Regions from separate parts of the Homo sapiens genome. Here regions 1 and 3 are each linked to region 2. The links come from fine-mapping of genetic effects on gene expression. A gene starts in region 2. Each other region holds a variant in brackets. All regions are shown on one strand. Distances are from middle to middle.

Evidence for each region. PIP is the estimated chance that this variant, and not a neighbour inherited with it, causes the effect. A credible set is the group of variants that fine-mapping cannot tell apart.
Region 1: its variant is the best candidate, but not a certain one, in a credible set for the expression of ALPK1 in visceral fat (GTEx, PIP 0.75).
Region 3: its variant is the best candidate, but not a certain one, in a credible set for the expression of ALPK1 in whole blood (INTERVAL, PIP 0.84).

What each region holds. Positions count from the first base shown.
Region 1 is chr4:112,421,426-112,424,191 of GRCh38, forward strand. ALPK1 (alpha kinase 1) reads left to right here. Exons shown (of 16, transcript NM_025144.4): 6 at 2,519-2,578. Among named protein-coding and RNA genes, the nearest start is that of NEUROG2-AS1, 93 kb to the right of the region's middle. The variant A/T (reference allele first, on the strand shown) is at 1,193.
Region 2 is chr4:112,295,877-112,298,642 of GRCh38, forward strand. It overlaps ALPK1 (alpha kinase 1), which reads left to right and starts at 1,493. Exons shown (of 16, transcript NM_025144.4): 1 at 1,493-1,593. RefSeq lists an enhancer at 1,257-1,551.
Region 3 is chr4:112,441,580-112,444,345 of GRCh38, forward strand. ALPK1 (alpha kinase 1) reads left to right here. Exons shown (of 16, transcript NM_025144.4): 16 at 1-1,042. Among named protein-coding and RNA genes, the nearest start is that of NEUROG2-AS1, 72 kb to the right of the region's middle. The variant TA/T (reference allele first, on the strand shown) is at 1,147.

The DNA.
Region 1 (2,766 bases), 130 kb after region 2:
GCCACGCCCTTGGTTTGATCTTGACCCTAAGGTCACATTTTACTGCCAGTGCCCTGAATTTGACCTTTGCCCCAGGTTTTAATATTTTAAATTTATCTTCAGAATGTCTTGCTGTCTGGAAAAACTATTCTGGGCCGTCTTTATTTTCCCTAAATCTTGCTTAAAAATGGAATACAGTAGTCCCCCCTTATTCATGGGGGATACGTTCCAAGACCCCAGTAGATGCCCAAGCCTGATTGCCATTAATCAAGACACATTTCTGTTTATGTCTTCTACCCACCGATTTAATGCCTTTTCCATCTTAACTAAGCATCTATCACGCACGGTAGCCATACTTTCACAGTTGGAGATGTGACAGCAAAACTAGCACAAATCTCTTTTTCCTTCTTCACCATTTTTGGATAGAGGATGCATCCTTACCATAGACCTTAGCAACTTTGGCATATGAATTTTTTCCTTCTTTATTAAGTTGAGAATTTTCACCTTCTCACTTAAAGGAAGCACTTTACAGCTTCTCTTTGGCACATCCAAATTGCCAGCATCACTACTCCTGTCCTTTGCGGCCATTGTTAAGTAAAATACGGGTGACTTGAACACAAGCACTGCATTACCTGACAGACAGTTGATCTGATCATGGAGAGGTCTGCTAAGTGACTAATGGGTGATCATCGTAGATAGCATGGATCCGCTGGACAAAGGAATGGTTCATGTCCCAGGCAGGATGAGATTTCATCACGCTACTCAGAACGGCACGCAATTTAAAACTTATGAATTGTTTATTCCTGGAATTTTCCATTTAATATTTTTGGACTGTGGTTGACTGCTGGTAACTGAAACTGCAGAAAGGGAAACTGGGGACAGAGGGGACTACTGTAGTTTCTTCTTTAGGTTATTGCTTTCTTCCTGTACTTTATCTTGGGTAACTAAAAGATACACATTTTGGCACTTTCAATATCCTTCCTGGGTATCTCCCTAGCTAGACACCGAGTCCACTGGTTACATTTTGCTACATTCCACATTACTCCTGGAGACCATGTTGCCAAACTTTACAACACCGTATAATGTCTGTTCCCTTTCTCAAACTTCCAGGAACAATTTCTTCACTGCCTTTTGTCTCTGCAACACCCTTCAAGTCTCCAAAGTTTTTGTTATAGTAGTACTCCACTTTTAAGTGCATGATTTTTCCATTGCT[A/T]TGTTAAAAGCCACTCCATGACATAGTGGCTTAAAACAGTAATAATTCATTCAGTCTCATAATTTGTAGTTTGGGTGATTATTATAAGTACTGTCAGCTGGAAGCTGGGATAGCTAGAAGGTCTGGAATGGTTTCATCCACACAGTAGGCATTTGGTACTGGCTGCCAGCTAAGAGCCAAGCAGAGGCCTTGGGGGAGGGCCTCAGCTGTCCTCTGCATGGGCCTCTCCATGTGGCGGCCTCAGCTTCCTCAGAGCATTGGGCTAAGTTCCAAGAAGGGAAGGCAGAATTTAAAGATCCCTTAACGCCCAGACTTCTGCCACATTCCATTTGTCAAAACAGGTCACAGGGCCAGTTGTGTTCAAGGTGAAGGGAAATAAACTCTAGATTCCACTTTTTGATGGAAAAATGGCCAGGTCATCATTGCAAACGAGCGTGAAGAATGGAATATACTGGTGTGGTCTTTTTTGGAAATACAACCTACCACAGCCAGAGTGTATGTCTACGTATGTAATTTAAAATAAGATGGTCAGGGGAGGCCTTCAGAGACAGTGACATTTGAGCAAAGACCTGAAGAAGAAGAGAGGAAGCCTTGCAGATATTTGGGATGAAAGCGTTACACACTGAAATAATTGTAAATACAAAAACTCTGATGTGGTAATGAGCCTGGTCTACCCAAGGGATGATAAGGAGGCCACTGTGACTGAAGTAGAGGGCCAAGAAGGAAGGAATAAGTAGTTAGAGGTGAGGTCAAAGAAGTCATGAAAGCCAGATCATGTAGGGCTTAGAGGAACCTAGAGAAAGGAATGTTTGGTTAAAAGGATAAATAATTGTGTTTCCAACAGGTGTCCATAGAATAGGCCCTTCCTATGTGGTAGTAACAAAAATAAGTAAAAACTTGAGAAAGAATCTCCTCACTCCCCACCCCCAAATTCCTGCCAGATAATTCCATAACTAGTTCCTGTCCACGGGCAACTCTATTCCACTTCCTGAAGTATAGTTTTCACAGGGAGGCGGCACAGCCTGTTAGAAAAGTTTGCCTCTACTCCTCAAACCCTGCTCTATGTGAATGAATTATCACATACATATGAATCTAATTTTCATTTCAGATACTGTCCAACTTCCCACCTTACCAACTTAGGAAAACTTCATCTTTCTTTTCAGTTTTATAGATGATGTCATTGTTGATTTTAAATTATAAAATGGAATGCTTCCAAAGGAGGTTACAGTTCCTGCTGCAATATATCAGTCTTAGAACATGAACAACTTGTAATTGTTAAGTGCATGTTCAAAGCTAATTGTGTGGCATTTGGTTGCTGCTTTTCAGGAAAACTTTTAAAAGCAGAGTATATTCTGAGCAGTCTAATAAGCAACAATGGAGCAACGGGTGAGTACTTTCATATCTTCACAATGACTTTTACCTCAGCCCCGAACAGAGCACTCATTTAATAACAACTTAGTGACTTAATAGTTACTATACCTTAGATGTTTCCAGAGCTATCTGGGGCTGGCTCTGCCACTGATGAATGAAGAAGCTTTGATCAAGCAGCTTACATCTCTGTGTCTCTGTTTTCT
Region 2 (2,766 bases):
GCAGACAGACCTGAGGTCAGGAGTTCGAGACCAGCCTGGCCAACATGGTGAAGCCCCACCTCTACTAAAAATACAAAAAATTAGCTGGGCGTGCTGGCAGGCACCTGTAATCCCAGCTACTCGGAAGGCTGAGGCAGGAGAATCGTTTGAACCCAGGAGGCAGAGGCTGCAGCGAGCCGAGATTGTGCCACTGCACCCCAGCCTGGGCAACAAGAGCGAAACTCCATCTCAAAAAAAAAAAAAAAAATAGAAAAGAAAAAAGAAATTAAACATTTCTGTTTTCTGTGACCATAGACTCTAAGTATTAAACTTTCTTAAAGATTGAATTGTACAAGTATTGATTCATAATTGATGAAGAAGACAAAAATAAAATGGTACGTTTTGATGAATATTAAGTGATAAAATTTATTCAAGTGTCACTTCTCCATAAGATTTCTGGAGTTTTAAAAAATTAATTCACAGCTGAATGTTACTTATAGTTGGAATAAAACAACATTCCACAAAAATATACACATGGAAGAGGAGAGGAACTGTGTTTACATAAATAAATAGAGATAGAATTTTGTTATAGCAATGCCATTTGGTTATTTAAACTTCTAAGGTCATATATTAAACATTACATAGCGATCTATCACACAAAAAAAATGTGTTTTAAGTGATCGAGCAACTGACTATTCAACTATTTCCTCCTATTTTGTTGTAAACAATTGACTTGCCAAAGCATTTATGACCCAGCTTTTGGAGTCCTTCACTCTCTCAGTTTCTAGGAAGTATACCAAAGGCTTTACCAAAATGTATCAAATGACTATTAATAAAACCTATTATTCCTTCACTCTAGAGGAAACTTCTTTAACCCAGCAGGCTCAAAAAGGATTGAGAAAATTAAAATATTGTTTATGTCAATAACTTTTCCAATAAAATATATTTTGACATTTAGAAATCTTAGGTACTTTTGATTTTTTTGTCAAAATTTCGAGTTGCAGATTTCAGTTGTTCCATGGAAGGACAATGTCCACTGTGTAACTCAATAAGACACTTTTCACTGTCAAACTAGTCAGCCTAATCAGATATTCTATCCAAAAAGTCCTAACTTTATTTTCCAGTTCAGCAATATATGTGTCTCTGTGATAACAAGCTCACTTCTAAGACAGAGCACAGAATGAAGCCTTAATGTGCATCTGTCTTTTGCTAACAGATTTCAACAATGTCATATTCATTGTTTCTTACTGACATTCTCTCTTCTTGGCTCTAAGAGGACTCTCCATTCTTAGTCTAAATAATAAGTTTTTCTTGCACTTTCATTAGGAGAAGGAACTTTTCTGTAGTAATACAGCTCCCAGAATACCTTTCACCGAAGCAATTCCTAAAGGGGTGTGTCTTATGGTGCAAGATTGCTGAAAGTCCCGGAATTGAATTACACAACCATATTCTGAGACAGTCACAGGATTGGTTGTTTTTTTTTTTTTAATTCCTACTTCCTGAAACTGAAGCCGTTTATGAGAAACAGTGTGTTTCAGAGAGGCTGTACCAGAATTAACTCTGCTCAGAGTTAGATTTGCTGGTCTTAAAGTACTTTTCCTCTTTAAGATAAAAGTGAGTATCATCCTTTAAATGACAAAACGCAGTAGATGGCATAATATATGAGGAAGTATTTGTCTTAAGTGTTGACTCAGTTTCCATCTGCTGATCTTGTTTATATTTAAATAACTTTAGAGCTCTAAGAACCTTTGCACTTCTATAATAGAAACTTTCCAGAAAGGGGAGGATGAGTTGGTGGGGTGAAGGGGGTGGAGTGGGGAAGGGGAGGGAGAGAAGGGAAAAGTTACCTACAATGGTAAACTGTAGTCATTATGAAGGGGAGAAGGCAAACCAGTTTTTCATAAGGTTTTAATAACAAGTTTCTTAAGTCACTGAGCTTCTGGTCTTGTCACTTAACTGAGATGTTTAATTAAAGGATTGTTAGGATTATTTGTTTAAAAAAAAACTCTATGACTTTTGCCTGGAATACATAGGTAATAATAGAAACTACCACTTTTATGACAGCATCAGTAATTTTGCTAGGAAACAGGTAGATAAGGCACGAGACTTACTCGTCTCATATGGGTGAATTGACGGGAATTCTGAGTGCGTGGAAGCATTGTTTAGAGACAAAGCATCCAGAAAAATTAAATTCCTTTGCATGTCTATTTAGAAAAATCCTTTAATTAAAAAATTCTAGTGTTTGAAATTAGTACTTTAGAGTACTTTGAAAAGCCACAAATTAAAACCTTTAAGATGGTTTGGGATTTGAGGATGGGTGAGGGTACAAACAGGCAGGATCAGGAAGGAGAGGACTTTATGCCACAATATAATAGCATCTCTGCTTGCGATATATATTTCTCTCTCTCTCTGTCTCTCTCTCTCTCCCTTTTACTTTCTTTTTACTTTGTGCCACTAATTCTCTTATAAGAAACAATATCCATTTAATTTGGGGTATAATTTATGCACTTGGGATACACTCTAGTCTCTAGAACCAATGTCAAGTCCAGTCCTTGTCTGCTGACCGAAACAATTTACTTCTCTCTTCCCACCTCCTTCCCACCCCATCAACCTCAAGCCTCAAGAGAAACAAAATACTTAAACTTATTTTAGAAATAACTTATTCCCCATATCAAAGATCTTTTAAATCTGAGATGAATCTCTCAAATTTCTTCCGCCAAGAAGACACCAAAATTGTATAGCATCTCTATCTGCATGAGTAGGAAGCCAATAATTACTTTAAACTTT
Region 3 (2,766 bases), 150 kb after region 2:
TAAAAAAATGTGAGCCTTTGTGATACGAATTCAATTTGTTTTCCTGTCTTTTGACATTTGACTTTGCATAAAAGTTTATCTGTGCATAATTTTATATGTAGTTGAATTCATCAATCTTTTATTTTGTATGGCTTTTTGGTTATGTATAATACTTAGATCCTCCTTATACTCTGAGTTTCTTTCTTTTTAATTCTCCTGTATTTCCTTCTAGTATAATTAAATCTGTAAAAAGTAAGATGGAAGAGTGGTACAGTTTTCTTTATCCAGTCTGTCCTTGATGGGCATTTAGGTAGACTGGATAAAGAAAATGTGGTACATATACACCATGGAACACTATGTGTATTAATCCACTCTCACACTGCTATGAAGAGATACCTGAGACTGGGTAATTTAGAAAGAAAAGAGGTTTAATTAACTCACAGTTCCACATGGCTGGGGAGACCTCAGGAAACTTACAATCATGGCAGAAGGCACCTCTTCATAGGGTAGCAGGAGAGAGAATGAGTGCCAGCAGGGGAAATGCCAGATGCTTATAAAGCCATCAGATCTTGTGAGAATTCATTCACTCTCACGAGAACAGCATGGGAAAAACTGCCTCAATTACCTCCTACCAGGTCCTTCCCATGACACATGGGAATTATGGGACTACAATTCGAGATGAGATTTGGGTGGGGACACAAAGCCAAACCATATCACAATGTAACCATAAAAAAGAATGAGATCATGTCCTTTGCAGGGACATGGATAGAGCTGGAGGCCATTATTTTTAGCAAACTAATGCAAGAACAGAAAACTAAATACCACTTGTTCTCACTTATAGGTGAGAGCTAAGTGATGAGAGTAGGTGGACACATAGAGGGAACAACACACACCAGGGCTTATCAGAGGGTGGACAGTGGGAGGAGGGAGAGGATCAGGAAAAATAACTAATGGGTACTAGGCTGAATACCTGGGTGATGAAGTAATTCGCACAACAAACCCCCATGACACAAACCTGCACATGTACCCCTGAACTTAAAATAAAAGTAAAAAAAAAAAATCATTGAATATTGTGAACTCTATGAATATACCAAAACCATTGGACTAGACACTCAAAGGGTGAATTTTATGGTAGGTAAGTTATACCTCAATAAAGCTTTTTTTTTT[TA/T]AAAAAAAGAATAGTCTTGCAAAAAAAAAAAAGAAGAAGAAGAATGATACATTTTCCTGGCTACCACAGTCCATCCCTTACCCTACACAGATCTACTTCTTCACACAGGTTTAGGAAACAGCTCCTCCATGATCTTACTGAAAGAAACAAAAGGGCGACTAGTGAGATAAACCAATTCTTTTCTGCAGTTATTCTTGGGGCTGCAACTGGTGCTCACTCTCCCTATCCTCCACTGTTCATTCTAAGTTTCCCTCAGCCTTAACTATTAACTCAGGAAGTCTGGGTGGCTTACCTGGTTGGTGAGACTCAAACTTACATACATGATCTTCATGTATCAAGTCCAAACATTTGATAGTTTATACTCTTCTCAATTTGAGGTTGCTGCACATGTCTCTTCACAGTTGCAGTTGAGGCAAGGAAGACCCATTCCAATCTCCTGCTGTGGGGATCACAGTTGATTGACACTCCCAGCTTTCACTCCCCTGAATCCATCACTGTGTTTATGCTGAAGCCATGTTGCCCTCAATGTGCTGTCAGCCAGTGACTAAGCATGACAAGGACACTAGTCTCAGAATATTTCTAACTGCTGACTGTGACTGTGGAACAAAGTCTTAGCACTGGCCTAACCAAAACTTTCTTAAGGCCGGGCGTGGTGGCTCAGGCCTGTAATTCCAGCACTTTGGTAGGCCGAGGCAGATGGATCACCTGAGGCCAAGAGTTCAAGACCAGCTTGGCCAACATGGTGAAACCCCATCTCTACCAAAAATACAAAAAAAAAAAAAAAAAAAGCTGGTCATGGCTAATTTTTCAGGAGGCAGAGGTTGCAGTGAGCTGAGATGGCACCACTACACTCCAGCCTGGGCGACAGAGCAAGACTCCATCTCAAAAAACAAAAGCAAACAAACAAAAAAACTCTTTTCTTTGCTCTCTCCTTTTATAGGCATCAGGCCCACAGCATGGTCCCCTGCCTACTCTTGTTCCCTCCAACTGATCCTTTACAATCATTTCTCCCAATAGAGGTCTTTCATGTCTAATCCTTTCCTGGTATCTGCTTCTTGGAAAACCAAAGCTAATACATGCTTATTAAGGAAATGAAAAAAAAATGTAATCTATCCTATTAACAAAGTAAAGGGAGGAAATCATGTAATTTCACAAGATGTAGAAAATTATTTCATAAAATTCCAAATCAACTCATGGTAAAAGAAAAAAAACAAGCTCTTTGAAAACTAAGAATAAAGAAAAGGTTTCTAAATCTGGCAAAGGTTTTTTTATTTTAAACTTAAAACAGCAATACCATAATTAATAGTGAAGCAATTAAAACTTTTAAGTTGAGAAAAGGAACAAGACAAATTTGCCTACTATCCCACTTCTATTCAACATCATAGAAGAAGTCCAACTAATAAACATAGAAAGACTAAACTAGAAAATCATGATTTTGCATCCATTAATGAAATAATGGATCTGGGCAGAAAGCATTGATGGCTGGGGAAAATTAGATGGAGAACTTTATAATGGAGAAATCAGGCTGATGCTACTCACACTTCAGTCAATCTGATCACTAAAAGTGGGATAATGAATCAGTGATAAAATGACATTTTTGAGACAATTGGGGATTTTGA